Homo sapiens: one gene and its partners. The protein of the gene in region 3 interacts with the protein of the main gene of each other region in a biochemical or structural test. Each region holds a gene or a part of one and is shown on either strand. Other genes may lie near its edges.

Region 1 (7,491 bases), on a different chromosome or scaffold from region 3:
CTCACTGCAGGCTCCGTCTCCTGGGTTCACGCCATTCTCCTGCCTCAGCCTCCCGAGTAGCTGGGACTACAGGCGCCCGCCACCACGCCCGGCTAATTTTTTGTATTTTTAGTAGAGACGGAGTTTCACCGTTAGCCAGGATGGTCTCGATCTCCTGACCTTGTGATCTGCCTGCCTCAGCCTCCCAAAGTGCTGGGATTACAGGCGTGAGCCACCTTCAAGTCTTGATTCACAGGTTATCCCCTCCGAGGCATGCCCTGACTGGCTCAAAATTACATGCTCAAGACCTCGCCTACCCTTTCTGATTTATTTTACTCCTTAGCACCTGTAACCATGTGACATACTCTATGAAATATTTATCTATTTTGTTCATTCTCTGTCTCTCCCACTAGAATGTCAGCTCCATGAGGGAAGAGATTTTCATGTGCTGTTCACTGCGGATCCATAGAACAGAGTACCCGGAAAAGAGTCTGGCATAGAACGGGTGTTCAGTATTGAATAAATAAGTAGCCAGGGGTCTCAGGAGGTGGCAGTGCCATGGCAGTTTGAAGGCTTCCGAAGGAGCCATCCACTTGAGAAGCCCCCAGGGGAGAGCACAGCATGTGGCTGCTGTGGTCAAGCAATTCTTTTCTGACTTAAACCAGCTGGATTAATTTTTTTTATTTCAGGGCAGGGCGGTGGTCACTTTCAGCCTTCAGGGACGCCTGAGTTGTGCTTGGCAGCCTGCAATACTGGAGAGCTGCCCCTGGAGGGCGCAAGGGAATCCCGTTGCTGCACTCGGACGCGCAGTCACTAGACATGAGAGATGACGGTGGTGGTAGCAGTAATGGAGCATTTGCCTTTAGGCCTCTTTTAACTTTCACAACAGCCTACAAGACAGGTACCATTATCCCCGTTTCCTAAGGGAGGAAACCAAGGCGCAGAGAGGCTAAGTAACGTGCTCACGGTCCCTCAGGGTTAAGTGGCAGAACCAGAAAAGAACCAGAAGGAAAGGAGATACAAGTCACCATTTTTGGCCTGGCGCGGTGGCTCACGCCTGTAATCCCAGCACTTTGGGAGGCCGAGACGGGTGGATCACGAGGTCAGGAGATCGAGACCATCCTGGCTAACGGTGAAACTCCGTCTCTACTAAAAATACAAAAAATTAGCCGGGCGCGGTGGCGGGCGCCTGTGGTCCCAGCTGCTTGGGAGGCTGAGGGAGGAGAACGGCGTGAACCCGGGAGGCGGAGCTTGCAGTGAGCCGAGATAGCGCCACTGCAGTCCGGCCTGTGTGAAAGAGCGAGACTCCGTCTCAAAAAAAAAAAAAAAAAAAGTCACCATTTTTCTGTACACCCAGAGGGAATCCAGGAGGGGCCCTGGATGGACCTGTTTCCTTTGGGGCTCATTGCACTGGGGTGTATCTCCTCTCGGGCCTGCTGGAGCCTCCACCCTATCTCCCTGCTGCACGTCTCCCAGCAGTGGCTTGTGTTCTCTTAACTGTGCAGCCAGATTGGACCTGCTCAGCTCCAGGTGAAATGGACAGAAAGCCCATCCCTGCCCGGTCTGAGGATTGGGAAGCCTTCCTGGAGGAAAACACGCTTAATTGGAGACCTGAAAGAGGACTAGGAAATAGGCAGGTGAAGAGGTGTGGGCAAAGACCTGAGGATATGGGGGTGACTGATGAATTTCTTCGAGGCTCTTGGCATGAGTAGAGTGAATGTTTACCCCAACCCGATGAGGCAAAGGCACCGCAACTTTCCTAGCCCACATTTCCATCCGTTTGCCCTTTACTGTAAACATTCAAAAGATGCATCCACCTCCTTCCACTCTGGCAGAACAGAGGACCTTATCTGCATGCCAATCTCGGATTATCTGTAGCCCAATCTCAGAGCTGTCTGAGCACTGGGCTTTGTAGTTTCCAGACCAGCCTCTGGGACAGGAAGTGGGGGGCTCAAGGGTTGTAGGGCCAGTGCCTTGCAGAGGCTGGGAATCCCCTTCTCAGGACCTGAAGACCCTGGAAACTGGAAGCCCCCCACCCACACAGAGGCACCCTGTCCCATAGCTGGCTCAGCTTCCAGCTCCCTGGGGCGCTGGCCTCCTTCGGGGAGATATTTTACAACCAAAGTTTTCTTCTTTTATGTCCAGCAGCACGTGGGTGGGGTCAGGCTGCCTGGGCTGCAATCCCACCTGGCCACTTGGCATCTCTTAACCTCTCTGGGCTTTACTTACCTTATCTGGAAAATAGGTTGAATGGCTTATTAATTGTGATGTGCGTACAGCAATGTCTGGCACATAATCAGTGCGACTCTCATTATTGTAGTATGAATGTGATTTGATGCTGTAATTTCTCCTCTCTTCAGGGTGCCGGTGTCTTTTTCTCTCAATACTCCAAGAAATGAGCGTCCAGCATGGATGTGAAGGGATGCTTGCTGCACCTGGAGTTTCAAGATGCCGCTGGGGAAAAGGGAGGCTGCTAGCAAACACCATTTTGGAGGGGGCTGTATGAAGGAGAAAAGTAGCCTAGAGCCGGAACTCAGATTTTCTAAAGGGGATTCAGGCGGCCAGAGGATAGTAGAGGGCCAGAAAGGAGGTCCCCAAGGAGGCTTCGGGGTAGGGTGTGAGGGGATCCTCAGGCAGACTGGGGAGCTGAGCCTGTTGTAACCGAGCGAGTTACAGAGAAACGCCGCACTTTGAGACGAATTCAGGGGTCCTTTATTAGCTGGCGACTGAGAGACAGCTAGTGCTCAAAATTCTCTCAGCCCCAAAGAAGGGGCTTGATTTTCTTTTATACTTTGGTTTAGAAAGGACAGGTGGGGGTCTAAAACAATCTTACAGAAGTAAAGCAGGCAAAAAGTTAAAAGGATAAATGGTTACGGGAAAGCAAACAGTTCCAGGTGCAGGGGCTTAAAATCTATCACAAGGTGATAGACACGGGGCTTTGGGCGTTATCAACCGGACACAAACGCCGGGGCTCTGGGTGCTATTAACCGGGCGAATTCCTGGGAACTGCGGATATAGCTTGCCACAGTATCTTATCAGTTAATTGCATTCTTGGATGTGCTGGGAGTCAGCTTGCACAAATTAAGTCCTTGAGGAAGCGGGGTGGGTAAGGGGCTGCAAATGAAAGAGCCAAGATGGAGTCTGTCTGGCTCTCTTAGCTAAGGGAGAGTCAATTCAGGTTAAAACAAGGTAGGGTATCACAAGCCCACTTAACAAGGGCAGCAGGACCCCAAGAAGAAAAGCTTTAGGAGTCTCCACAGTGGGCCCAGGGCAGTTCCACACAGGTCTCTGAGGCCCCACAGACAGGAGAGCTGTGACGACTCCCTTAGTGCCCAAGAAAGCAAGGAGGTGGTGGGCAAGGGGCTCCCAGAGGCCTTGGGGCACTAGAGGGGAGATGGAGCCGAGGGAGTGGCTCTGCAGGCCCCTCTCTGAGAGAGTGCATGAGGTGTGGCCCCAGGCCCAAGGGTAGGGGGTGCACAGGGTGAGGGAAGGGAGGAGAGGAAGAGGAGGAGGAGGTGGTGGCCACAGCGGGATGGCACTCAGCCAGGTTCAGCTTCGTGGGAAAGGTCCCAGGTGGGCCGGGCTAGCACTGGGGATGCCCTGGCTCTGTGTCTCGGTTGGGTGGCTGACTCCTCCTGGAACGCATCCCTGACATCCTCCAGGCTGGCTTGGGGATACTCTGGGGACACACAGTGCCCAGGCTTCCGGCCTCCCAGCCCTGGCTCCCTGTGGACTCAGCTGCCCCCAACAAGCCTGCGAGCCACTGGAGAGCAAGGGCAGGCTGTCCTTGCCATCCAGATGCCTGGCACAGAAGGGGTTCTCACCTTCGGGGTATGGGCTGACTCAGTGGGTTTCTCCTCCCTCCAGCTCTAACCTGCCTGTGGAATAAACAAATCACTCCTCTGGGTTGTCTAGCTGGTGCAGGCCCCAGGGCGACGCCCCTTTGAGGGGAAAATGGGGGCATTCCAGTTTCCATGAGCCCTGGGACTCCCCTCCTTCCCACCACTGCTGCCTACCCTCCGGTTCCAGGTATGCAGGCTTCCTCCCTTCTGACGGTTCCTGCTGCTGGAGTCGTCCTTCCTGAAACCCTGCCTTTGCTTAGCCTCATTCCCATCTCTCAGTCCCATCCTGCAGCTGGGCAGGCAGTGCTGGGCCCCGGAAATGCCCTCTGCCTCCCTGGAGCACGTGGCCTGTGATTTTCCTTGAGCACAGCACTTTGTGACTTTGATGTAAACATCAAACACAGCCCCCTTTCCTGTCTTCGCATCCAGGAAATAGGTTAGTTTCAGACAAGCCTGCTTGCCGGAGCTCAGCAGACACCAGGCCTTCCGGGCAGGCCTGGCCCACCGTGGGCCTCAGAGCTGCTGCTGGGGCATTCAGGTAAGCGGCTGTCCTCGGGCCTTCTGCCTGTGTCCTGCCACCAGGGCCACCCCAGGGGGCTCTGGGAGACCTGGCAGAGGATGAACCCCCCCCATCCATGAGTGAGAAACCCTGGCGGGGTGTGACATCCTCCCCCGGGGTGTGTGCGGAGAGTGTGAGCGGCAGGGCCTCCCTCTCAGGCTGGGGGCTTGGGCTGCAGGGAAATCCAAACCGGCTTTGTAAGCCCCGATTCCTCACCCAGAACCGGCTCTCCATTGGCATTGGGACCAGAGACCCCGCAAGTGGCCTGTTTGCCTGGACATCCACCTGTACGTCCCCAGGTAAGTGGTGCCTGGGTGGAGTGGCACCTGGCCACCGTCTCCATGGTGGGCTGTGTCTGGAGGAGGAAGACAGAATATTAACTGGGAGTCAGGAGGTTGCTGGGAGGACCAGGAGAGCTGGAGGACTGGGCTGGGTGGTGACTGGCTGGAGATGGAGGCAGACGGGGCTTGTGGCCACGCTGAGGGAAGCAGCTCCCCCTCCAGAGGCTTGGCCGAGCGGGGCTGTTCAGGGGACACGGTGAGGCCTGCTCAGTCCCTGGGCTCCTGCTGGGCCCTGTTTGGCTGCATCCTTGGCTCTCGGAGGCAGAGAAACCTCCAGAGAAAGCGCATGTGCACTCTGTGAAGATGAGGGGGCTGCTCACCAGGGCCGTGAGCTCCATCAGCAGAATGCTGTGATTCCTGTGAGGAGTCCAGGGCAGGCTTGAGCCACTTGTAGGCGAGCTCAGGTTAGAGGAAGACCTGGAGAGAGAAAGAGCAAAACACCGAGTTCTCCTCAACTGCTGTGTGTTCTCGGCAAGTTGCTTGGCCTCTCTGACCTCAGTTTGTGCATCTGTTAAATGCACATGCAGATATGGGCACCTGGCAGGCGCCTGGTTCCTGACTGTTGGCGAGAGGCTGGGAAATGTGTCCCAGGTAGGAAGCATCCCCGACAGGAAGGAACAGGAGTTCATGAGGTGAGCAGCTCGAGATGATTCATTACTCTCGTCTTGGTTGGAACAGTAGGCAGACAGGAGGTGTTTAATAATGCCTTGCTGAGAGATCAGGGTCAGGGACTCCTAAGGTGCCACCTGTGAAGCTGCCTCCTGCTGAATCCAGAGCTTCCTTTTCCTCTTCACACCTGCCCTCCATCCTCAGCCCCACTGCCCTGGCAGTGTTGCGGGGGTGGTGTTGATGTGCACACTCTGGAGCCTGGGGGCCTGGCTTCACATTCTGGCTCTGCCACTCACCAGCTGTGTGACTGGACCAGTCACCGCATCTCTCTGTGCTTCCCTCCCAGGGCTCTCGGGAGGATAAAGAGAGTGACTGTATCCACACTGCCCGGCACATACAGGTGCTGCAGAAAGGTCTCACTAAAACCCTCATTATCCTCACTAGCTCTGGGTGGCCTCGGGCTCTGGACTCCACAGTTCCTGTATGCTCTCCGGGGCTGCAGCACCCAGACCACCCCGTGCTGACCACTCCCTGCCCCACCCCAAGGTACAGGGTTAAGGCAGCCATTCTCATCAGAGCCAATTTTACCTCCTCCCGTCTCCCTGGGACAGTTGATAGTGCCTGGAGACAGTTTGGGTTGTGACCCAGCGGGTGTTACTGGCATCCAGCATGTCCAGGACAGGAATCCTGTGAACAGCCTACAAGGCCCAGGACAGTCCCACCCTGTTCCATTGTCTCTATCAGCCCCTATCCTCCTGACTCACACCGCCTTTTCCCATCTCCCTTTTACAGTCACAGAGCCTGAGGCCCAGAGAGGGACCGCTGCTTGCTGAGGTCACACAGGCAGTGGAGGCCGGAGTTGGGGGCCTCACTGGAGGGGCGGTGGAAGGGCATTGTTCAATCAACAGACACTTGGAGAGTGTGCTGGGTTGGGGAATCTGACCCTGACCCCGCACCAGCCCAGCTCTCCAGGGTCTCCTAATAGACATTTGCTGGAGTGGTTAGTGCTGGCTGCTGCATTGGACAGACCTGAGTTCAAATCCTGGTGGCCCCTTGCAGGCTGCATGTTCTGAGAGTGACATTGACCTCTCCGAGCCTCAGTTTCTTTAGCTGAGGAGTGGGATAACAGTTCCCACCAAATGTAGTTGTGGTGAGAATTAGAATAAATGGCTAATGCTCGCAAAGGGTAGTGCAGTCCCCAGCACAGAGGCTGTTGTGATTGTCCTTACACACTTGACAAATATTTGTGGGGAGGAAGCAGGAGCTTCCATAGAAAACAAGACAGAGCCGTGGGCCCTGCCTCGGGGAGCTCAGCCTGGTGAGGGACTGAGGAGCAGAGACAGAGGCCATCAGGGCTGTGATGTGGGAGGATGGGGACCCTGGAAGCCTAGGGGAGGTGCCTGACCCAGGCTGGGGAGGGGGCAGGGCTCATGGAATGCTTCTGGGAGGATGGGACAACGGAGGAGGCCTGAAGCCGGAGGCCCAGTAGAAGGATGCAGCGCAGTTCTGGGCTGAGGGAATAGCCTGTGGCCAGGATCCTCAGGATGGGCCCCTCCTCTCCCGCCATCCTCCACCCAAGGAAGCCCCTGTGGCCCCTCACCCCTTCCCAGGTGTCAGGTTCCACCGGTGCTCAGAGGCATCCCCACCCATCCCAGTGGACTGCAGACCTTTGTAGGTACCTGGTATATTGAGCACCTCCTCTGTGCCATGCTGGTATAGGTAGGAGAACAAGACAAAGGCTCCACTCCCGTGGTGCTTACATTCTGGCAGGGACAAAGGTACTATGTCACCAATAGATACAATATCATCTTTTAGGTGGTGAAGAACAACAAAGCTGGGTCAGGGCTAGAGAGAGAAGGAGAGGCTATTTTGGAGAGGGAGGTCAGGGAAGGCCTCCTGGAGGAGGTGACTTAGGCAGAGACCTGAATAAAGTGGAAGGTGTTGGAGGAAGAGTCTCCAGGCAGAGGGAACAGACAGTACAAAGGCCCTGAGGCTGCACCATGCCTGGTTTGTCCGAGGGACCTGAACGAATAACATGAGGAGGCCCGTGTGGCTGGAGGGGAGTGAGTGGCGGGGGGTGGTGATGGGCATCATGAAGGGCCTTGGGGGCCACCCTGAGGACTTGCATTTTCACCCCGAGTGAGGTGGGAGCCTAGAGGGC
Region 2 (8,157 bases), on a different chromosome or scaffold from region 3:
AGTGATGGGATTAGAGGCATGAGTCACCACATCTAGCCTAAATTTACATTTAAAAACGTCTATTCATCTGGGAGAGGTGGTTCACCTGCCTTTAATCCCAGCATCTTGGGAGGCTGAGAGGAAGGCAGAAGGATCACTTGAGGCCAGGAGGTAGAGACCAGCCTGGGCAATATAGCAAGACCTTGTCTCTACCCAAAACAAAACAAGTCTATTCAAAATGAGATCTTGGGACCAGGTGTGGTGGCTCATGCCTATAATCCCAGCACTTTGAAGGGTTGAGGCAGGAGAATCAGTTGAGTCCAGGAGTCCAAGACCAGCCTGGGCAACACAGCAAGACCTCATCTCTCCAAAAAAAAAAAAAGAAGCTGGGCATGGTGGGACACACCTGTAGTCCCAGTTACTCAAGAGGTTGAGGTGGGAGGATAGTTTGAGCCCAAGTTGAGACCACTGCACTCCAGCTTGGGTGACAGAGCAAGACCCTGAAAAACACAAAGCAAAACAAACAAAACAAAAGAAAAAAAAAGGAAAGAAAAAAACACTTAAAAAAATTAGATCTTGGCCATGCCCTGTGGCTCATGCCTATAATCCCAGCACTTTGGGAGGCTGAGGCGGGCAGATCACTTGAGGTTGGGAGTTCGAGACCAGCCTGGCCAACATGGTGAAACCCTGTCTCTACTAAAAATGCAATAATTAGCTGGGCGTGATGGCACATGCTTGTAATCCCAGCTACTTGGGAGGCTGAGGCAGGAGAATTGCTTGAACCCGGGAGGCAGAGATTGCAATGAGCTGAGATCGTGACACTACACTCCAGCCTGGGTGACAGGGAGAGACTCCGTTTCAAAACAAACAAACAAAACAAAAAACAAAAAAACTCCCAACATATAAAGCTGATAGACTTACAATGAAAGAAAAGAGGATACCACACTACCCTCTTAATCCTCAGTTGGGTGACCCCAACCCCTGTCCCTCAAAGTTCCTGGGGGTCCCTTGACAAAATCCTAGCGATCCCCAGGCTAAGCTAATCCCCTCATTTGGCAAGCAAGGAAGTTGAGGCCCAGAGAGGGGCAGCACATGGTTTCAAAATCTTCTGACCACGAAGGATCCCCTTAAAGTCTAGGGGTGAAAGTCATTCCCAGCAGTTCCAAAGCTGCCTTTGTTTGGCAAGGCAACACCCCAGCCTTTAGGATTTGAAACAGTGGGCAGACTTTACTGCCTGTTTTTGTTGTTGTTGTTATTTGTTTGTTTTTTTGTTTTGTTTTGTTTTGGGACGGAGTCTCGCTCGGTTGCCTAGGATGGAGTGCAGTGGCGGGCGTGACCTCAGCTCACTGCAGCCTCTGCCTCCCAGGTTCAAGCCATTCTCTGTCTCAGCCTCCCGAGTAGCTGGGATTACAAGCACCTGCCACCACACCTGGCTAATTTGTTTGTATGTTTAGTAGAGACAGGGTTTCACCATCTTGGCCAGGTTGGTCTTGAACTCCTGACCTCGCGATGCACCCGCCTCGGTCTCCCGAAGTGCTGGGATTACAGGCATGAGCCACCGCGCCAGGCCTTGTTTGTTTTTTTTAACAGGGTCTCACTTTGTCACTCAGGCTGGAGTGCAATGGTGCCATCTCAGCTTGGCTCACTGCAACCTCGACCTCCCAAGTTCAAGCAATCCTCCTGCCTCAGCCCTCCAAGCAGCTGGGACTACAGGCACACACCACCATGCTGGGCTAATTTTTATATTTTTAATTAAGATGGGGTTCACCATTTTGCCCAGGTTGGTCTCAAACTCCTGAGCTCAAGCAATCTGCCCACCTGCCTTAGCCTCCCAAAGTACTAGAATTACAGACCTACTGCATGTTCTTATTGTTATTACTTGACCGTTCCTCAAGGACAGAGTGAAGGAGAAGGAGAAGATATAGGACATGCTTCAGAAATTGTGAGTGCAGCCAACTGGGTCCATCCTGGGTCTCCCTCTGGCCATCTGAGAGGATGTACCATAGCAAAAATATGGCAGGGGCCAATGAGGGAGGGTTAAACATGCTCACATGAACAAAGAGAGCTTTGTGGTCCAGAGTGGATTCTGACATGACCACACACGGAGACATGTCAACTTGCTTTCCCTTCTGAGGGAGGAACTTCATGCTGATGTGTCAGCTCTGTCCCTGTGCAAGACCCCTACTCCCATCTCACTTCTTTTGGCCACTGTAAGATATACTGCCAGATGAATAGTCATTTCTCTTCTCTCAATTTATTTATTTGTTTAGAGATGGAGTCTTGCTCTGTCACCAGGCTGGAGTGCAATGGCATGATCTCAGCTCACTGCAACCTCCGCCTTCCAGGTTCAAGCGATTCTCCTGCCTTAGCCTCCGGAGTGGCTGGGACTACAGTCACATGCCACCATGCCCAGCTAATTTTTGTATTTTTAGTAGAGATTGGGTTTCACCTTGTTGGCCAGGATGGTCTCGATCTCTTGACCTTGTGATTCGCCCACCTCAGCCTCCCAAAGTGCTGGGATTACAGGGGTGAGCCACCGCACCCAGCCCCCCTCTTCTCTCTTTGTAATAGAACAGTGTAGACATTTATGAAGCTTTTCCTAGCTTTTCAACGTCAACACAATTAAAGCACAATGCATCTGAATTGCCAGCCCCCCAACCCAGTGCAGAACAAATGGCAGGAGTCCTAAATAAAACAGGGGTTTGCACTGAGCTGAAGACAAGTGAGGAAGCCAAGCTGGGATTTCTGTAAAAGTGTCCCAGACAAAAACAGTTTGCATCTCAGGTGCCTAGTTTTTCATAGTGCTTTTTCCAGTCTACCTAAAACTATTTTTATATGCATCATTTCCTTTATCTTACAGTTTGCCTAAAGGCAGGGAGAAAGACAATTAATTCAATTTTTCTGGAGAAACAGAGATCCAGCAATTCTATGTCAAGGGGCATAGATGGAGTCAAAAAACTATCTTAAAGGCTGGTGTCCTTTTATCATCATAACAATGGTCGTTAACTAGTTGTTTGGCCAAATGTTAAGAGTTCAAATCTTGGCTCTGCCATTTACTAGCCATGTGACCTTGGACAAGATACTTGACCTCTGGCTCAGCACCTTCATTTGTAAAGTAGTTCCTAGTTCATAGTCTTGTCAAGGAATTGTTTGAGTCACATATGTAAGAAGCAAAGAACAACACCAGCATATAGTAAGTACTCAATAAATTTGAGTTATCATTTATGTAGCGCTTTATGGTTTACAAAGCGCTTTCACATACATTATTATCTCTTGACTAAGATCCAGATCATTTGACTTTCAGCCCAGGCATTTGGAAACAATTCAGAATACTGGATAAAATCCAGCATGTTTTACCGAACACATCCAAGGAGGCTAATACTAGGTATGGTGTTGCCAGCCCAGTCTTGTCTTTTTGCTCCATGTCCTGGAAGAGCATTCTGCAAGGTCTCCAGGATATCCCCTTTGCTCTGGAAGCAGCTACTACCCAGGAAGCATTAATTTTCCCTCATCCTTTGTACAGCAGGAGGCAGAATTAATACACATTGTTGCTTAAGCTCCAGCTGTCTTATCTCCCTGCTTCCAAACACCACTGGCTATTCTTTAGGAAACCAATTCCGGGCTCAGGGAGTTACACTGTATCATTTCCCCTGGTAAAACCTTCACAGGCCTTATAAAGCAACCTCAAAAAGCCACTCCATGGGTGCTGGTCACCATCCCTCCCCCATATTCCAACCAGGGACAGGCCCGGACTGACATTTCTGGAAAACCCAGTGTGTGCAAGGTTAGGTTACCACGGTCCATACCAATGAGGAAATTAGGCTGTAGAGAGAAGTAACTTGTCTAAGGCACCGCAGTGGATACGAGTGCTGTAGCTACGCACTTACCAGCTCTATGATCTTCCCCAACCTCTCTGAGCTGAGTTTTCTCATCTGTAAAACTGGGATAATGATTAAACACACTCCTAGGGTCAGTATAAAACTTCAGTGAGTTCATTCATTACGATTAGCACAATGACTGGCACATACAAGAGCCCAATAAATGTTAGGTTTTATTATTATTATTACCCAAAAAAGACTATCAGTTAGGGTGTACTCATTGCCTCTTTCATTATAGCAAGTGGGACCCTTGTCCCTGACTGAAGACAATGACTTTGTTTCCAAACGAAAGAGGGTTAGCATCCCCCAGCCAAATTCACCAGGTGGGGCATGGGGCATCAATATGGTTGTGGCTTCCACCATCTTTGCAGTGGGAGTAGTTTTGTCCAGCCTATGATACAATTCACTTATTATTGTGCAGTGGTGATTCGGTCCGTCTTTGAATCCTTTTATTGACAGGATATCCACTCCCTAATGAAATAAGCCCGTTCCCTTTTGAACACCTCTTATAATTAGGAAGTATGTTTTCTCTGTTCCTTCTTCCTCTACCCTCCTAGCCCTTCCTTCTTCTCCTCCTCCTTCCTCCTTTCTTTTTCCCTTCCCTCTTCTTTCTGCCCTGTCCCTCTTTTCTTGTCCCCTCCCAGGTCCTGCCACCTCTGAGAACCTGAGGTCCTTCTCCCCAACCCCTCTGCCCCACCGGGAAGGCACTATTCAGTCACTGACCATAACCTTGTAGAGCGCAGTAGGTCTTTAGTGCAGCCACTTGGCCGGCTGATTGGGAACTCAACTTCCGATGGTCCTAACAACCCTTTGGGTTTTGCAGGATCTTTGAGAAGCAAAACCTTTTACCTAGGCCTTACGGCTTGGCCTTCTGGTCCATTAGTATCATCCACCAGTTCACCCAATTTCCATTAATAACCGCATCTAGAATCACATGAAACTTGAGATGGGTTGATCTCCTGTCTTGAGGCCCAGCTGGGCGGGTATGCCAGCCAAGGAGAGGGCTGGGGCGCCGGGGGTGACTCTCGGGAGGTGAAGCACACAAGCAGCCCATAAGGTTGGGATCCTCCGTCTCCAAGTAGCGCGACTACAGCTCTTGCCCGCACGGAGCAGCCTCGGACAGCGCGGCCGCTTTAAGAGAGGGGCGGGGCCCGGGTACAGGCAAGTCAGGGCCAGCCCACAAGGCTCCTTTTCCTTTTTGATCCATTCAAAAATTACTCATTGCAAATTCCCGGACTGCTAGGCGAGGAGAGGGAAGGGGGCGGAGGAGACAGGGCTACTGCAGGCGCAGAGCTGGGGGCAGCCGGGGGCCCGAGTGGCTGAGGCTGGTCCCGCAGCGGCCGCTTGCCGGCGTTCTGGCTCCTGTGGCCTCACCAGGAAGCGTCAGAGTCCCGACACTGGGGAAGCTCGGAGCGCCGCCTCCGCTGCCGCCGCCTCCTGCCTGGCTCTGGGTCCCCGAGCCCCCTCCCCTGGCCCAGCCCGACTCCCTCCTCCTTCCCGAACCATCCGGCTCGGGCTCCTTCCCTGGCGATGGCTGGCCGCTGAGCCATGGCTCAGTACGGCCACCCCAGTCCGCTCGGCATGGCTGCGAGAGAGGAGCTGTACAGCAAAGTCACCCCCCGGAGGAACCGCCAACAGCGCCCCGGCACCATCAAGCATGGATCGGCGCTGGACGTGCTCCTCTCCATGGGGTTCCCCAGAGCCCGCGCGTAAGTGGCCGGGCTCGCAGCCCTCGGCGACCCCTCCCGCGCGCGCGGCCGGCCCTCGGCTTCGCTCCGGCTCGCCTCCCAGCGCCTGCGGGACAGGCAGCGCGCTCCCCGCTGCCCGAGACCTGTTGGGGGCGGGATGGGCGCGCTGGCAACCCGGGACTCGGCTCCGGGCGGGGGTGCGGGGGAAGACGCGGCGCGGGGGCGTTGGGCCAGGGCTCGCCGTGGGATGCCTAAAGCTGGGGGACGAGGGCGCGGGGTTCGAGTCCCGGGTATAGTGCTCAGCCTCCGCCCCAGCCGGGTGGAGCTCAGCGTTTCTCTCGCGCGCTCCCCTAGGTCTCCAGCGCCGAGCGCCTAGGGAGGCGGGGCCCTGCGGAGGACTCGGGCACCCTCTCCGTCTGGAATACTGGGCTGGTCTGGGATCCTCCGGTGTCTGGGAAAGGGCGGGAGACTGCGGGGCAGGGAGGCCGGCGCCCCCGTTGCAGCGGCTTCCAGCTCCGGATGTCGCTCTCGGGTTCGGTCTCCCCCTGGAGTAGGAGGAGCGGGAGCGTGGGTGTTCCTGCGTGTTCATTGATGGGGAGGATGGAATCAGAAGGAGAAGCGATCCCTCCAGGGGACCTGGGTTCTCGTCAGTGGTGACGGCAGCTCAGAAATCTGTGGGTGCCTGAGAGTAAGGAGGGGGAGCTGTTCTTCATCCTTCCTCTAGGAGAGTGGGGTAGGGGAGGGCAGGGAGAGCGCAGGTGGCTGCCCCTGGAGCCTGCTGGGGAGAGGCCTGTTTGCCAGCATAGGGTGGCGGCGGCCGGAGTCGTCTCAGGCCGGTCGGCTCAAGTCTCAGGGGCTGGAACTCTGCCTAAGAGGAAGCCAAGGCCCAGCGGCCAGGCCCTTCTCCCCTGGTTAATCCCTGCCGTGCAGATTTCTTAGGTGGGGACACAAGGCCTGGCGTCCGGACTGGGCGCAGCTTCTTTTCATCTTTGAATTACAGCACCTGAACAGGAGAGTTGGCCAAACTTAATCAGTGAGGGCCAAGTAAATGAAAGTCCTTTTTATTTTTTTCCCTTCTCACATTTTTTTTTCAGGTGATAACTTTATTTATGTATTTATTTTTCTGAGACGGAGTCTCGCTGTGTCGCCAGGCTAGAGTGCAGTGGCGCAATCTCTGTAACTTCCGCCTCCCAGGTTCAAGCGATTCTCCCACCTTAGCCTCCTGAGTAGCTGGGACCATAGACATGCGCCACCACACCGGGCTAATTTTTATATTTTTAGAAGAGATGGGGTTCTGCCATGTTGGCCAGGCTGGTCTCGAACTCCTGACCTCAGGTGATCCACCCACCTCGGTCTCCCAAAGTGCTGGGATTACAGGCAATAACTTTATGTCTCCCCTCCCTTATCTCTGGGCAAACCTTGTTTATTCTCTACTAACTTGGTTGTAATCTGTTAATCAAAGTAGACCCTTGAATTTGTTATTCTCCAGGCTGCTGGGACACGTTGGAGTGGCCTTAGAAGGCTGCAAAATGGACTGATGGTTTCTGCCTTCCACTGACGTCCCAATACGACTTCCTAATACTAGGGCTCCAGTTCCTGATACCAGAATTACAGGGAGAAAATGTGGGTTCTGCAGGGGTGTGTCAGGTGTGGACGCTTCAGGTGAAGTCGTCGGTGTGGATGATCAATGTGCACAGCTCTCCTTAAAAACTGGAGGTGGGGCTGGGTGTAACCCCAGCAGTTTGGGAGGCTGAGGCAGCCGGATCACTTGAGATCAGAAGTTTGAGACCAGCCTGGCCAACATGGTGAAACCCTGTCTTTACTAAAAATACAAAAATTAGCTGGGTGGGGTGGTGCATGCCTGTAATCCCAGCTACTTGGGAGGCTGAGATAAGAGAATCGCTTGAGCCCAGTAGGTGGAGGTTGTAGTGAGCCAAGATCGCACCACTGCACTCTAGCCTGGGTTACAGAGCGAGACTTCATCTCAAGAAAAAAAAAAAAAAAAAGCTGGAGGTGGGAGTGGGGAAGTCAGCTGGGGAATGCTGCAGAATTAGCATAGTCTCAGGCTACTGCCTTTTTTGAAATAAGGCCAGCATTAAAAACCTAAATTGCTTAATTAAGGGAAGAAATACTTAACTGAACTCCTCAGTCATATTTGAGATTCAAATTCAAATCAGCTTTAAAGGGACATCTTTTCTCCTGCTCTGAGTCCAGGAGGTCTTGACATGTCTTGACAGATTAGCATAAGGGTCATTTTTGGCTTGTTTAACCCCTGAGGTCTCCTAATAGCTAGCATGTATTGAATACTTACTCCATACTGTTCTAAGTACTTATATCTTTATTACCCATTTTATCCTCCTAGCAACTCAATGAGGAAGGTACCACATGCCCATTTTATGAATTGGGCAACTGAGGTTTAGAAGGGTTGCATAACTTGCTCAAGGTCACAACAGTAAGCAGTGAAGCTGGGATTCAAACCCAGGTATTCTATCTGCACAGCCCAGGCCTCACACCATCTAGGGCCAGTAGGGCCAGGATAGAAATGATTGAATGTGGGTAAAATGCTTAGAACAGTTCCTGGCACATAGTGAGCAATCGTGAAGTGTTAGTTA
Region 3 (7,905 bases):
GTCTCAAAAAAAAAAAAAAAAAAAAAAAAAGGGGTCTGGGAGAATTGGGTGAAGGAGGATACACTGAGAAAAGAGAGATTTGGAAAAGGAATGAGGGAAATGCATCTTTCTAGGCTGAGGAGAGTGGGAGAGCTAGGAGGACCAGTGGATAGAAGGGAACAGATTTACCTGGAGAGGCAGCAGAGGGTCCAGTGGTAGGCTGGGAAGCTGAAGGGTTGCTGTCGTTCTGCACCTGAAGGCACAGATTACATATTCAGATCCTGCTCCCTCCCATGCTTCTTGTCTTGATCTGCCCTCCTTTCCCACCATTGTGGCCACAGGACTCACCGCCTTGTTGGGTGCCTGCTGGGTGCTGTACTCTGGGTTTGGCTCACTGAAGTTAGGAACCTCAGAATAAACCATACAGAATCTGCAAGGGAAGAAAGTAGCTAAAGCCTTGAATTCATCCTCTGGGCCACTGCTGGAGGCCTCAGAAAAGTCCAGATAGGTTCGGTGTGGTCACTCACACCTGTAATCCTAGCACTTTGGGAGGCAGAAGCGGGAGGATCACTTCAGCCCAGGAGTTTGGGACCAGCCTGGGCAACATGGCGAAACCCCATCCCTATAAAAAATACAAAAAAATTAGCTGGGTGTGGTGAAGCACGCCTGTAGTCTCAGCTACTTGGGAGGCTGATGTGGGAGGATCACCTGACCCCGGGAGGTCAAGGCTACAGTGAGCCCAGATCATGCCACTGTACTCCAGCCTGAGCGACAGAGACTGTTTCTCAAAACAAACAAACAAACAAACAGAAAAAGTCCAGAAATGAGGCTTGGACTGCACACCCTATGCTGCCTCCTTGCAAACCCCTTTGCCCTGGTGCTTCTTCATCCCAATCCCCAAGACAGCACTTACTCTCCAATCTTCTGCAGATCACCCCCACGGCCAGTATATAGTGTCAGACAACCTTTGAAAACTGAAGCGTACCTATGGGAGGCAAAAAAAGCAAAATTCAGTACTCAGAAGTGTTATAGGGACTGTTAACCCCACTCTTGATTGTTGTTGCCTTTGGAAGGCCAGAAGTCACCAGCTGACTTACCCTTTGGTGAGCCGGATAATGTCCCCAGGCTGGATCAGATTGCCAACATCGTCCCAGACAGAGATATTGATGCTGCCTGTTTTGTCCGCCACTTTGCAGGTCCGAACCTCATGCCCGTCCTTTGTCTTGGTCACTCGGCCTGAACGGAACAGATAAATCGAGGTGGGAGGATGGTCAAATAAATGGAGTGGTATCTCTCAGAAGGATGAGATGTGGATATTGGTGGAATGAGGGAAAAGGTGTACAAACAGGGGAAAGCCCAAATCCCTGGGGCATAAAGGGTTGGGATTGTGGAAGGGGTGGTGGAGGGTGGAGGTGGGAGTTCAGGGGCCAGCACCATGGAGAGGGCCCTGAGTGGAAAGAGGCCCGCGTCGCACAGGAGGTCTAGATCTGGCAAGAGTTCTATCTACCCTATACCTGACTGCAACTTTCTGTCCCAGGGTCGAAGAGATTGGGAGTGAGGAGTGTCTTGCAGCTTGCCTTGCCATCCCCATAGCAAGTTAAGAACGCAGACAGCGTTCTTCCCCTCCTGCCCCCGACCCCCATCCCGCGAACCCGCCACCCCAGTATAGACACCTGTCTCCAGCACAATGAAGATAAGGTTCAGATTCTTGAGCCCAGGCTTGATATCCTTCACAAAGGTCTCCGTCGTCATGCTGCCTGAGCCTCGGCACCCCACTGGATGGGGAATAGAGGATGAAGGCTCAATGCTTGGATCCTTTGCCCCCATGCTCCACTTCCCAAGGCCTACCTACCCCATTAGGCTGGGGTCAGGCAGCCTCAACCCCTCTAACCCTTCTAAAAGATTAAAAAAGAACATCCCCGGAGGCCTCCAACTTCAGGATCAGAATTTGGGGGTCTCTGGACAGGCTGCTTTGGGGCTGGAAGGCCCCCTGCCGGGATGCTCTTTTAGTCTCAAGCCGCGAAGTGGCGGAGCCGACGTAGACAGGGGTAGGGAACCCGGTGCACAGCCAGGGAGTAGAATCTTACTGGCCAGATCTTCCGGAACCCTCATCCCGACAAGCCGGGACTCGGTCCATCCCCTCCCCTACCCGCAGCCCACCACCCACCCAAGCCAGCCGGCAGGACTGTGCACGCCGCTGAGCAGCCCGCAGGGGGAGCCACAGGCTCCGCTGCCGCCGGATGCTGCCCCGTGGAACGCGGGAGTGCGGACATTCCCGGAAGTTTCCCCCGGCTGGCCTCCTCCGGCCAATCAGCACCGCCCGGGCGCGCCCTGCGTCCCGCCGCCTGCCCTGCCCAGCCAATCGGGATCAGAGACTCGTGCGCCGCGAAGGGGGCGAATTTCAGGTATTAAAGGAACCTTGGAGATAGTTGGCTCTGTAGGGGGAAAAATCCACCACTAGAAGGCGCACAGGGCCCCCAGTTTTCCTTAACTTGGCTAGGGAGAATGCACTTAGGTTCTAAGACGTTTCTTTCCAAAGAGTGACACAATGGGAAAAGGAGCAAGGGCTTCGGAATCTGGCGGACAAAAGTTTGAATCCTGGCTCAATGCTTCACTTCATTTCTCGACTATTTAAACATATGTAATTCCAATTCCGCAAGGCGCGGTGGCTCACGCCTGTAATCCCAGCACGTAGGGAGGCATAGGCTGGAGGATAGCATGAGTCCAGGAGTTCCAGACCTGCCTGGGCAATATAACGAGACCCCATTCTCCACAAAAAGGGAAAAAAAGACAAAAAATATGTAATTCCATCTTACGAGAAAACGGAAGTTATATTTAAAAAAGTGCCTTGCACACAGTAGGCACACACGGTTTCCTCCCTTTTTATTGCTCTAACCGTTATCTTTGTTCCTGATTTGGGGTTCTCATCTTTAATGCACTACCCAGCTTGGTCAAGGTCTCTGGGAAAAGTGGCATTTACACCAGAGACAAAAGGCAGGCTCACCCTTCTTGGAAGAAATGGAACCTGCGACAAAGAGAGAAACATTGTTAGTCCCTTTTTTTTTTTTTTTTGAAACAGGGTCTCGCTGTGTAACCCAGGCTGGAGTGTAGTGGTGCAATCTTGGCTTACTGCAACCTCCCACCACAGCCTCCGTAGTAGCTGGTACTACAGGTTCGCACTACCACCCTCGGCTAATTTCTGTATTTTTTTTGTAGAGACAGTTTCGCCATGTTTCCCAGGCTGGTCTCGGACTCATGACCTCAAGGGATCCGCCCACCTCGTCCTCCCAAAGTGCTAGGATTACAGGCGTGAGCCGCTGCACCTGGCCATACTACTCTTCCCCGCCCCGCCCCACCGCTCCACCCCGGCAAAGGAGTCTTGCTCTGTCGCCCAGGTTGGAGTGCAGTGGCGCGATCTCGGCTCACTGCAATGCAACCTCTGCCTCCCGGGTTCAAGCGATTCTCCTGTCTCAGCCTCCCGAGTAGCTGGGATTACAGGCGCCCGCCACCACGCCCGGCTACTTTTTTTGTATTTTTAGTAGAGACGGGGTTTCACCACGTTGGCCAGCCTGGGCTCAAACTCCTGACCTCGTGATCCACCAGCCTCGGTCTCCCAAAGTGTTGGGATTAAAGGCATGAACCACCGCGCCCGGCCATACTACTCTTATCTTACTTATCTCAGAGTCCCGCTAGAAGACAGCAGAAAGGAGGCCTGAAACTTTAGTTCCTTTTGGGACCTGTCAAATTGTCCACAAAAGGTAGCTAGCTCTGTATTGTTGTGTATAAACAAATTACATAAAGATATGTGTGTATGTGTGTATTAATGTGCATTAGCATTTGCTTAGCCAATGTCCACAATAAATACCATACTATTTAATACCAGATTAGTCTAGGAAGTCATGTGATTGTAATGCCTTGGTTTGCTTAATTAATCCCTTATCTGCTCACGGAGCTCTTTAGGCTCCACATTGACTTCCCTTGGATCCCACGTTCTCTACCGCCCACATCCCCAACACCACGGTGTTGTAAGCTAAGGAAATCAAACCCCAACTCAGGAAGAGGGAAATTTTTTCTCCCTTCCTTCCTCTTAGGTGTTTCAGGGAACTCCACAAGTGTTCGGGGAGCCATCGTGGATACGGCAGGAGAGCGCCTGGGAGAGAGGCAGACAACCCGTTGAGCACCCCAGATCTAAGCTTTGCGGTCAGACTCCCTCACTCCCCACCCCGCGGCCGCCTTGTTAACTGCAATATCCATTCCCATGACAGGAGTCAAGGGGTTACGAAGCTCTGGGATGCTGACCAGGGCTCTGGAAAAGGGAGAGGGGCCGGACCCGCAGCAGGTCACGCTGCAGGCCTGCCTCTCCGCAATGATCTCGCAACAATCTGCGTCAGCTCTAAGACACAAGTCACCTGCACCCCTCCAAAGCGAAGCGTGGCCGGCCAGGCCCACACGTTTTTGCCGGGAAGAACATAGAGTTCTCCCTCCTAAATGGCTACATAGTCCTGGCTGGGACCATATAGACTCTAGACTAGACTTCCTGTCTAGAGTGGAGGCCTGGCCAGCCTTCGTCCCTCCTCGTAGGCAGCTCCTGGCTGCTGGTGTAGGGGCTGAGTTAAACAAAGAGGCGGGGTTTGGTGACGAGCTTCCGCCGGGTTGCGTAGCAGCGGTGGGCGGGGCAAAGGATCCGTCTGAGGCGGCGACGAGTGGTAGGAGTCTTCTTTCCCCTCCTTCCCCTTTCCCTTCCCTTCCCGGGAGAGGCTGGGACCCGGCACCAGGGCAGTACTGTGGCCGCTGCGGCCTCAGCTCCGACTGGGTCAGGTTGCGGAGACTCCAGGCCGCTTCCAGGGCGGTGCGTACTGCGCCTGCGCGATCTTCCACCTAAAAGAGGGTGTGGGAGGGGAGGAGGTGATGTCCCAGGGGTATTGGGGCGGGGGGTTGAAATAACTGGGGTTCAGGAGGAGGGATGGTGGTAGAGATAAAAATGTGAGAAGGGAGCAGCACTGGCGAGGAGTCGGGAGGTGAGAAGGGGGCTCTGGAGAACGGGTTGTTGGGGAAGGTCCATTGGAATAGGGGAGCTTTGAGAAGTGCGGGAGGGGGCCGGGGCTAGCTGGAGGACCGGCACCTGCAGAACTGGGGGAACAGCGTGGTGTTTAAATGGGCAATGATTGACGGGCCAGAAGGGGAGGAAGGGAGCATTCCGGGGGCCAGCCTGGGCAGGGGCGGTGGAACCTAAACCCCCGCCCTCGAAGCGCCATAGCTTGGCTCCTCTCCCATGCCTTGTCGTTGGCAGCCTTGTCCTCTCATTCCTTCCCCGCTCCTCACCCCCTCCCAGCCCTCCATGAAGGAATCTCACATTCTTCACATCCCTGCGCTTGGTTTGCAGCCTGGCTCTCTGGCAGGGTTCACACACCACACACTGGAAGGCCTTCCCTAACTCAGGACTTTGGGAAATTGGGTAGTGGGGAGGAGGGGGCTAGAGGAAGAGCAGAAAGCCAGGAGGGGTGAAGGCGTTTTGCTTGAGGGATTGACAGACTGCTTCCCCGTTCAGAAACTTCATTTCATTTAATAGCAAGTGGGGCTGTTATTGAGGCCACTGTTCTTGGGGACTGGCCCGTGATAGTGTTATCCCTTTCTATACAGGGGTTTTAGAGTCTGACAATAGGGCAAGAGACTGATAGTGTTGTTGGCTGATAGTTTTGCCCCAAATAAGAATGTAGTGGACTAGTGGTAGGGAATGTGAGTGATGCAATGTTAAGCCGACCGACCTGTGGCTAGCCCTGCCTTCTAGTAAAAAGAAGGAACAAGCTTTTGTCAAGCATTTCCTCTCCGACTCTCAGTACTCTAAATTTATTTTGCATTCTTGTTTTTTTTTTTTTTTGAAACGGAGTCTCACTCTGTCACCCACGCTGGAGTGCAGTGGCACAATCTCGGCTCAGTGCCACCTCTTTCTGGGTTCAAGCGATTCTCCTGCCTCAGCCTCTTGAATAGCTGGGATTACAGGTACCTGCCACCATGCCTGGCTAATTTTTTGTATTTTTAGTTGAGATGGGGTTTCACCATGTTGGCCAGGCTGGTCTCAAACCTCTGACTGTAGCCGGGCGCGGTGGCTCACGCCTGTAATCCTAGCACTTTGGGAGGACGAGGCGGGCGGATTGCCTGAGCTCAAAAGTTCGAGACCAGCCTGGGCAACACAGTGAAACCCCGTCTCTACTAAAAATATAAAAAATTAGCCGGGGCATGGCTGCATGCACCTGTAGTCCCAGCTACTTGGGAAGCTGAGGCAGGAGAATTGCTTGAACCCAGGAGGCAGAGGTTGCAGTGAGCTGAGATTCCACCACTGAACTCCAACCTGGGCAACAGAGTGAGACTCTGTCTCCCCACACCCCCCGCCAAAAAAAACAAAACAAAACCCTGACCTCAGGTGATTGGTCCATCTCGGCTTCCCAAAGTGCTAGGATTACAGGCATGAGCCACTGCACCCAGCCTTATTTTGTATTCTGTTGCTACAAATAATCTTACTTGAGGATAACAGTATTCAGTATCCTTTCATATTTATTTATTTATTTATTTATTTATTTATTTATTTATTTTTGAGACAGGGTCTCACTCTGTCACCCAGGCCGGAGTGCGGTGCTGCGATCTCTGCTCACTGCAACCTCTGCCTCCTCGGCTCAGTTGACCTTCCCCCTTCAGCCTCCTCAGTAGCCGGGACTACAGGCACTCACGCCATCATGCCCGGCTAATTTTTGTATTTTTTGTAGAGACAAGGTTTCACTATGTTGCCCAGGCTGGTCTCAAACTCTTGGACTCAGGTGATCCACTCACTTCGGCCTCCCAAAGTGCTGGGATTACGGGTGTGAGCCACTGCGTCCAGCCTCCTTTCGTATTTATTATTTCATTTGATTTGCAGACAGTATGTATAAGGGGTGCGCGCGTGTATATACACATATATACACACACACACATATATACACCTTATATTACGCCGGGCGCAGTGGCTCACGCCTGTAATCCCAGCACTTTGGGAGGCCAAAGGTGGTGGATCATATGAGGCCAGTTTGAGACCAGCCTGGCCAACATGTTGAAACCCTGTCTCTACTAAAATATAAAAATTGGCTGGGCGCGGTGGCTCACGCCTGTAATCCCAGCACTTTGGGAGGCCGAGGCAGGCAGATCACGAGGTCAGGAGATCAAGATCATCCTGGCTAACGTGGTGAAACCCTGTCTCTACTAAAAATAAAAAAAAAAAATTAGCTGGGCGTCCTGGCGGGCGCCTGTAGTCCCAGCTACTTGGGAGGCTGGGGCAGGAGAATGGTGTGAACCTGGGAGGCGGAACTTGTAGTGAGCCGAGATCGCATCACTGCACTCCAGCCTGGGTGACAGAGCCAGACTCCGTCTCAAAAAAAAAATAAATAAATAAATAAATAAAATAAAAATTAGCCTGGCATGGTGACACATGCCTGTGATCCCAGCTACTCAGGAGGCTGAGGCAGGAGAATTGTTTGAACCTGGGAAGTGGAGGTTGGAGTGAGCTGAGGAGATTGCATCACTGCACTCCATCCTGAGCGACAGAGGAAGACTCCATCTCAAAAAAAAAAAGAAAAATAGGCCAAGCATGGTGGCTCACGCCTATAATCCCAGCACTTTGGGAGGCCGAGGCGGGCGGATCACAAGGTCAGGAGATTGAGACCATCCTGGCCAACATGGTGAAACCCCGTCTCTACTAAAAATACAAAAATTAGCTCAGCATGGTGGCACATGCCTGTAGTCCCAGCTACTTGGGAGGATGAGGCAGGAGAATCGCTTGAACCCGGGAGGCAGAGGTTGCAGTGAGCCAAGATCGTGCCACTGTACTCCAGCCTGGCGACAGAGCAACACTTTGTCTCAAAAAAAAAATAACATATATATATATAATAAATATGTATA
Region 4 (8,120 bases), about 46 Mb from region 3:
AAAGAGATGCCTGAACTCCTATGTTTATTGCAGCACTGTACACAATAGCCAACACACGAAAGCAACCTCAATGTCCATTGACATGTGAATAGAATAAAAATAAAATGTGGCATATTCATTTTATTAATTTAAACTATTTGTTTCTAAGAACTTTATATTTTAGGTTGTTAGTTAGAAATGAACAAAATAAACGCTTTTATTGCTCTATGAAAGCTTGATTCCTCAGATCTAGGCCCCCATTTGTGGTATATTGCACATTTGAATTTATCATAGGAGCAAAAGAAAGTTGTATATGTTGCAGGCTATGTTTACATGACTATGTTACAGAATTAACATTTATCTTTATTTCTTTCCTATATTCCTGTTAGAAGACAATAGGATTATAATTCAGTTGACAGAAATGTAGCTTATGGCAGTCCTTAAGTCTGTGTCTTAACTTTGGGAATTTTGGAGGCTGGTGAAGTATAAGTATAGCTTTTCCTCTGGCTCTTTTGCTAGAAGAGAAAGCAGACTTTAAGAGAAAATTATTGCAGCACTATTTACAATAGCAAAACTTTGGAACCAACCCAAATGTCCACCAATGGTAGACTGGGTAAAGAAAATGTGGCACATATACACCATGGAATACTATGCAGCCATAAAAAAGAATAAGTTCATGTCCTTTGCAGGGACATGGACGAAGCTGGAAACTATCATTCTCAGCAAACTAACACAGGAACTGAAAAGCAAACACTGCATATTCTCACTCATAAGTGGGAGTTGAACAATGAGAATACATGGACACAGGGAGGGGAACATCACACACTGGGGCCTGTTGAGGGGATGAGGGGCAAGGGGAGGGAGAGCATTAGGACAAATACCTAATGCATGCGGGGCTTAAAACCTAGATGACAGGTTGATAGGTGCAGCAAACCACCATGGCACATGTATACCTATGTAACAAACCTGCAGGTTCTGCACATGTATCCCAGGACTTAAAGTAAATAAAAAATTTAAAAAGAGAAAATTATAGATTCGCATAGCTGATATGGTTTGGCTGTGTCCCCATCCAAATCTCATCTTGAATTATAGCTCCCAGAATCTCCACGTGTCATGGGAAGGACCTGGTGAGAGGTAATAGAATCATGGGGGCGAGTTTTTTCTGTGCTGTTCTCCTGATAGTGAATAAGTCTCATGAGTTCTGATGGTTTTACAAAGGAGAGTTCCCCTGCCACCATGCAAGACATGACTTTGCTTCTCCTTTGCCTTCCACCATGATTGTGAGGCCTCCCCAGCCATGTGGAACTGTGAGTCAATTAAACCTCTTTCCTTTATAAATTATCCAGTCTCGGGTATGTCTTTCTAAGCAGCATGAGAACAGACTAATACAGTAGACAAAAAAAAAACCTACATTTTTAATCATAAAAGGAATGGAAATTACCAAAAAATGTCTCCTAAGGGATATAAGGGCATGCTGGTTATAAGAATTCTAACAGGAATTCCAACTCATTTTTTAAAATGAGTAATTTTTAATTTTCTAGTAATGCATATTTCAGTACATGCATTTTCCCAGTATTTGAAATTGCATAGACCTCACTTAATAATAGACCAGAACTTATAAATTTAGTCTTAGGTAGTTTGTAAGAGATGTAAACTAGTATCATACCAGGTATTATAATCCTGGCAAAAAAATAAGCTTACTGTATTCCAATCACTTTCATTATAGATCATCTGTATGAGGTTACCTCTAGGTAATCAGAGGGCTAAATAGGAAATTCATTCCATGGAAGCAAATCATTGTGGTTAAGGGCACAGATCATGCAATAAAACTGCCTGCCTGCCTGCCTGCCTGCCTTCCCTCCCTCCCTCCCTCCCTTCCTCCTTCCTTCTTTCCTTCCGTTTCTTTCTGTCCCTCTCTCCCTGTCTCCTCTCTCTCCCTTTCTCTTTTTCCCCATCTCGCTGTCTCTCTCTGTCTCTCTTTCTCTCTCTCTCTCTCCCCCGCTCTCTCTCCTTCTCTCCCTCTCTCTCTCTCCTCTTTCCCTCTCTCTATCTCGGATCACTTGGTAAACACCAAGACAAAAACCTGCCAAAAGAAAAAGGAATAGCTCACCACAATTTTCTAAGAACTTGACACACATCAGGGAAGAGATTGTGCCATCTTATAACAGTCACAATTTCCTAAGACTCTGACACAGTCAGAGGATTATGCCATCTTCCCACACTCACAGTTGGATATGCCATGTGATAACCCCAGCCAGGAAGGAGACAACAGTGAGACACAAGGTTCTGTAGAAGACAAAAGCAGAACATAAGCCAAATCGTCCATGATGCTGCCTCCTGGAGTTGACTTGACCATGATGAAATGTAACCGAAATTGACAATATTCCATGACACCACCACGGCTTCTGTGCTGTGGATGGACATTGAAAAAAAATGCACAAGTTAGGAAGTTGTTTTCTTATCCTGCCTTTTCCTCTGCCTCCAAACTCTATTAAATCCAATATAAATAAAAATCTCATTAAGTGTTTACTTTTTAAAGCTTCTTCCCCGGATCAGTCGTACATTCTCTTCTTTCAGCATACTTTTCATTTACCTAGACTGAAAATTTGATTCCCTAATGAAACGTGCTCTCCTAAAACTTTCCAAAGTATTGCATTTGATTGTCAGAATTGTCAGAAGGCAGGTGAGTTGTTGTGTAAACCTTAACTTTATACAATAACAATGTATCCACCTTAGAACAATTATAAATTCAAGATACGATGTATTTTTTAAATTATTCTCTTTTTTGGTTTATATTTTATTTTCTTCTTCTTGTACACTATTATTTCCCTAGATTCTCTTTTCCAGAATGATGTGTTAGATTTGGAATTCAATAATGAAAGACAAAAATAAGTATTTAAATGAGGAAGTATATATTTCCTCTGTCTCTTTTTGTTATCCTATTCAATATGCAAAACCAGGCTGTGTGATCTAAATCAAGTTTCTTATCCTCTAAAGCCTAGGTTTCATATCTAAAAATTAGGAATGATATTACCAGACTTGTAAGGCTGTTGTTTGCACACAAAGGAAGAATTAAATGTGATCATTTATAGACTCGCCTGAGAGCATAGTATTTTATTATTAGGTACTCAATAATTTTTTTAACTTACCCTTACCTTCTCACCTCACCTCTGTAAATTTTAACAAAAGACAGGAGACCTGCATATTTACCAATTCCTTATTCTCTATATTGAGTAAGGTAGAAATTTTAGAGATCCTCTAAAAATTTTTATCCTTGCTGTCTTGCCATGTTATGGATTCCTGAATTATTTTATATTACTGGTCTTTTGCTCCATTGCCACCTTTCAGGACAGGGCTTACATCCATTATCTGAAAAGCCAGACGTATATATTAATTATCTTGATTTCTTTATATTAAATATGGACCATTTAATGCAATGTTTGAGTTAGTCTTACAAATATCTCATTTCCTCCCATGTTCACAATAGCCAAAATATGAAAACAAGCTAAATGTTCATTTCATTGATGAACAAGTGGATAAAGAAAACATAGTGTGTGTGTGTGTGTGTGTGTATATATATATATATATATATATATATATATATATATATATATATACAAGAAAAAACTTTCCACAAGAACCTCCATGTCCTCATTTAGAATTTAATTTAATTTTTTACCTCACACACCTCTTTTTTTTTTTTTTTACTTCCACTTGACACCTTTCTGGGGTAATAGGTATGTTGTACCTGAATTCCACTCTCCCTCAAAATATCTGTCTCAAATTTGTATATACATTAGTAGGTATCAATCAGGAAGGTCTCCCTCAACCCATTCAATAGGCCCTGCCACAAAATTTGAAAAGTTTAAAAAATTCAGAGCCCTGCTTATGTACATGGGTGTACATTTTTGCAGACAAAAATCCCCTGTGCCCTACCTACTCAGCAATCTTCCCCCTTCCTATCAATCTTCCTCTTCCCCTGAATCATTGGTCACAACTGATCTCTTTGTTTTCTTTGTCTTGGTTTTTCTCGAATGTCATATAGCTAGGATAATATGATAGCTTTTCAAACCGGCTTCTTTCACGTAGTAATATGCATTTAAGATTCCTCCATGTTTTTCATAGTTTGACAACATTTCATTTTGTTGTCGAATGATACTCCATTGCATGAATGTACCACAGTTTGTTTATCCACTCATCTTTTGAAAGACATCATAATTACTTCTAATGTCTGGCAATTATGAATAAAGCTCCTGTGAAAATGTGTGTGCCAGTTTTTGTGTGTGTTGGGAGCAAGCCCCCCAAAATCCGGCCATAAACTGGCCCCAAAACTGGCCATAAACAAAATCTCTGCAGCACTGTGACATGTTCATGATGGCCCTAACACCCATGCTGGAAGGTGGTGGGTTTACGGGAATGAGGGCAAGGAGCAGCTGGCCCGCCCAGGGTGGAAAACCACTTAAAGACATTCTTAAGCCACAAACAATAGCATGAGCAATTTATGCCTTAAGGGCATGTTCCCGCTGCAGTTAACTAGCCCAACCTATTTCTTTAATTCGGCCCATCCCTTTGTTTCCCATAAGGGATACTTTCAGTTAACCTAATATCTACAGAAACCATGCTAATGACTGGCTTGCTGCTAATAAATACGTGGGTAAATCTCTGTTCGGGGCTCTCGGCTGTGAAGGCTGTGAGACCCCTCATTTCCCACTTCACACCTCTATATTTCTGTGTGTGTCTTTAATTCCTCTAGCGCCTCTGGGTTAGGGTCTCCCAGACCGAGCTGGTCTCAGCAGTGTGTACAGGTTTTCCACTTTCTATGGTTCCTAGATTGTCTGTTAATACTATACTTACCTCTATAAGAAACTGTCAAGTTTACCGGGCCGCGAGGGTGCAGGCTGCGCAGATGGTGTGGTCCTGCGCCCCGAGGGCCGCAGCAGCTCATCCGGCAGCTCCCACCCCAACAACCTGGAAGGGGGCGGGACTTCCGTTTGTACCCGGCTGTGGCAATCTGTGGTGAAGTTGAAATGCTTTTCTGCTAGACTGGCAACATGTTTTGATTCTTCTCAAATAACTCGCAAGCTCTTGTGAAGCACAACGGCCTACCTTGTCCTGAAGAAAACATACTCTAAGGCCCACAGATGATTAAACCCAGCCATTTATGTGACAATAGCATTTTTATTTTTCTTATCAAGATCTGGGTATTTGATCCACACAATGGTAAAGATTCCCATGTTAGCCAAGATCTAAATGATTCAAACTGATGATACTCTCTGCAGAAGAGGTAAGAACCACTGGCAGTAGGGTGGAAGGTATGTCATTACAGATGATGCTGACAGAGAAGGTCATCTGAACCTACTTTATAAGAAAGGCATGATTAAAGGAGAAAGGGGAAAGGGCATTCTAGGTTAGGAAAGATTCTGAAGAAATGTAAAATAATATGAAGGTGTGAGCTGATATATTTAAGAAATAATGAATGATATGTGGGAGTATGTATCATCTGCAGAGATGGATGAGGGAAGATGCAAGTGGAGGGGAAGGCTGGAGCCGCTGGTGGAAAGACGTTAAGTGTATTTCAATGGCCTGATACTGCAGGCAGTAGACAGCCTCTGTAAATCAGGTAGCTTCCTTACTCTTGCTCCTACTGATCCCTCAGTCTAAAATGCCCTCTGCACTTTCTCTTTAGAGATAGAGAGGGAAAGGGAGTCAAACACGAAATCTCCAGGAGGCCATCCCTGGTTATTTCTTACTCCTCTGTTGATTTCCTTTAATCTGTGAAGTGTCTTCTAACTCGTGGCCTGAGGCTTTAGTGACTCTGCTGACTCATTGTCTGGTGCTACTGATTGTGCTAATGGTCTTCGATATTGTGTCCAGTGCCCCCCACCATTTTGGGAAGAAATTGGCTTTAGTTTTTACTCAGATTGAAATTTTATTTAGAAACGGGAGTAGCAAGACCAGGTGCAGTTAGTTACACCTGTAATCCCAGCATTTTGGAAGGCCAAGGTGGGAGGATTGCTTGAAGCCAGGAGGTTGAGAAATGGGAGTAGCAACCAATGTCGGTAGAAGAAACAGCATATAATAACAGGATGTGATAAATCTCAAGAAAAGTTACGCACAAATTACTATGGCAGCAGGAACGAGTGAGCCGCCCGATGCTGTCAGTGAAGGCTCTGAGGATTGGGAAGGATTGGCAGGGTTACAGGAGACAAACAAATGCTACAAATAACATTCCAAGTAGAAGGGGAAGTGAGGGTAGGGAAAGGAATGCAGACAAGGCTGAGCCTTGTTTGGAGAGCTAAGTTCAGTGTTGCAGATGCTCAATGTCATACCTTAGGAGGGAATTGCAAATTAAAACAACAATGAGAAACCACTGTATACTATTTGAATGACTAAAATCCAAAATACTCACAACATCCAATGCTGGCAAGGATGTGGAGCAACAGGAGCATTCATTCACCGCTGGTGAGAGGTAAAAAGGCATAGCCACTTTGGAAGGCAGTGTGGCAGTTTCTTACAGAGCTAAGTATAATATTAACATACAATCTAGCAACCATAGACGCAGGACAAGAACTCGGGCAAAGACGCCACAGCCACACAGGTTTCTGAACAGAAAATCAACATCCCAAAGATCCCGTAACATAATCTATGCTCAATCTCCATCTGTATATTAAAATCCATCCACCTACCTCCTTAGGGATTTCTTTTTTTTTTTTTTTTTTTGAGACGGAGTCTCGCTTTGTCACCCAGGCTGGACTGCAGTGGCGCAATCTCGGCTCACTGCAATCTCCGCCTCCCGGGTTCACGCCATTCTTCCGCCTCAGCCTCTCGAGTAGCTGGGACTAAAGGCACCCGCCACCAAGCCTGGCTAATTTTTTTTTATTTTTAGTAGAGATGGGGTTTCACCGTGTTAGCCAGGATGGTCTCGATCTCCTAACCTCGTGATCCGCCCGCTTCGGCCTCCCAACGAGCTGGGATTACAGGTGTGAGCCACCGCGCCCGGCCAATAGGGATTTCAAGCTTGTAATTTTCTTTCTTTGGTTCGCTCTGGCACTATCAATTTCTTTTCATCTCCACTTGTTCACTCACCTTCACCTCCCAACATGGTATAATATCTCCTATGTTAAAAACAAGCAAAAGCCATCTTTTGTTTACCATGCCCCCATACACACGATTCTAATTTTCTTATATTTCTTCTTAACATTTCTCTAATTTTCTTGACAACAAAAATGTTCAAAAATCTCTCTGTGCTTACTGTTTCATCCTACTTTTCCTTTATGTTAATTAGGCTTTTTCCTTCACTATTTCTATGAAAACACTCCAGTCAAAGTCACCATTAACCTCCACATGAACACATCTAATGGCTAGTTCTCAGAATTCATCTCACGCACCAGATAAGCATTCAAAAAAAAAAAAGATTATTCCCTTTTCATAACATACATTCTTCTCTAAAATACAGTGTTCCCTAGGACACCGTTCTCTTCAATTTCCTTTTGCTTCATTCACAACCCAATCCTCCCTCAGATTTGGATTCCTCCTTAAATTAATTTAAAATGTTGTTGTGTCCCAGAATTCAGTTCTTGGTCCTCTTGTTTTTTTTTTAATTTATCCTGGGATGAACTAAATTGGATAGTACCCATAGAATGGCCAGAATGGGAATTAATCTCTTGTAACCTCATGACTTAATAGCCATACATTGATAATGTCCAAAATTATATTTCCATACCATTGCTTGATCTCCAGAACCACATATCTGACTGGATTCTTGGCATATTGACTTTGATATATTTTAGGATTTTTTAACTTAACACATCAAAAAATGAGTGACTCTTCCCAATGAGTTTCTCCATCTCGATAAATGAATATTCCATACCTACGGTTCCTCTGCCAAAAACTTGGAATCACCTTTGACTTTTCTTGCTGCTCTCACATGAATTAAACATGTCAGAAAATATTGTTCACCTTGGAAAATATGGAAGCACAGTTATTAATTATGGAAGTATTGTTGATTGAGAATACCTTAAAAGAAATGCTGAGTTAACATGATAGGAGGATTCATTCTCACTCTGTTCTTTAACAGTCTTTCCATTCTCACATCTTATGCCTGTTTCAGAGGACACTTTTAAAGTGGGGCCTAAATTGGA

Evidence for each region.
Region 1: the proteins of RNF41 (region 3) and ZAP70 form a complex in vitro, tested with the Homo sapiens proteins (one study listed by BioGRID).
Region 2: the proteins of RNF41 (region 3) and UBASH3B form a complex in vitro, tested with the Homo sapiens proteins (one study listed by BioGRID).
Region 4: the proteins of RNF41 (region 3) and CLEC9A form a complex in vitro, tested with the Homo sapiens proteins (one study listed by BioGRID).

What each region holds. Positions count from the first base shown.
Region 1 is NC_000002.12:97,709,316-97,716,806, forward strand, and holds the start of ZAP70 (tyrosine-protein kinase ZAP-70), read left to right. Parts: upstream 1-4,260; 5' UTR 4,261-4,359; intron 4,360-4,566; exon of another isoform or gene 4,567-4,600; 5' UTR 4,601-4,679; intron 4,680-7,491. UniProt on the Homo sapiens protein: Tyrosine kinase that plays an essential role in regulation of the adaptive immune response. Regulates motility, adhesion and cytokine expression of mature T-cells, as well as thymocyte development.
Region 2 is NC_000011.10:122,650,645-122,658,801, forward strand, and holds the start of UBASH3B (ubiquitin-associated and SH3 domain-containing protein B), read left to right. Parts: upstream 1-5,077; 5' UTR 5,078-5,405; coding exon 5,406-5,566; intron 5,567-8,157. UniProt on the Homo sapiens protein: Interferes with CBL-mediated down-regulation and degradation of receptor-type tyrosine kinases. Promotes accumulation of activated target receptors, such as T-cell receptors and EGFR, on the cell surface.
Region 3 is NC_000012.12:56,218,683-56,226,587, reverse strand, and holds the start of RNF41 (E3 ubiquitin-protein ligase NRDP1), read left to right. Parts: upstream 1-4,665; 5' UTR 4,666-4,828; intron 4,829-4,886; exon of another isoform or gene 4,887-4,997; intron 4,998-7,905. Other genes in the region: NABP2 (SOSS complex subunit B1), read right to left, coding at 169-232, 328-409, 893-964, 1,077-1,215, 1,653-1,806. UniProt on the Homo sapiens protein: Acts as E3 ubiquitin-protein ligase and regulates the degradation of target proteins. Polyubiquitinates MYD88. Negatively regulates MYD88-dependent production of pro-inflammatory cytokines.
Region 4 is NC_000012.12:10,025,710-10,033,829, forward strand, and holds the start of CLEC9A (C-type lectin domain family 9 member A), read left to right. Parts: upstream 1-4,972; 5' UTR 4,973-5,263; intron 5,264-8,120. UniProt on the Homo sapiens protein: Functions as an endocytic receptor on a small subset of myeloid cells specialized for the uptake and processing of material from dead cells.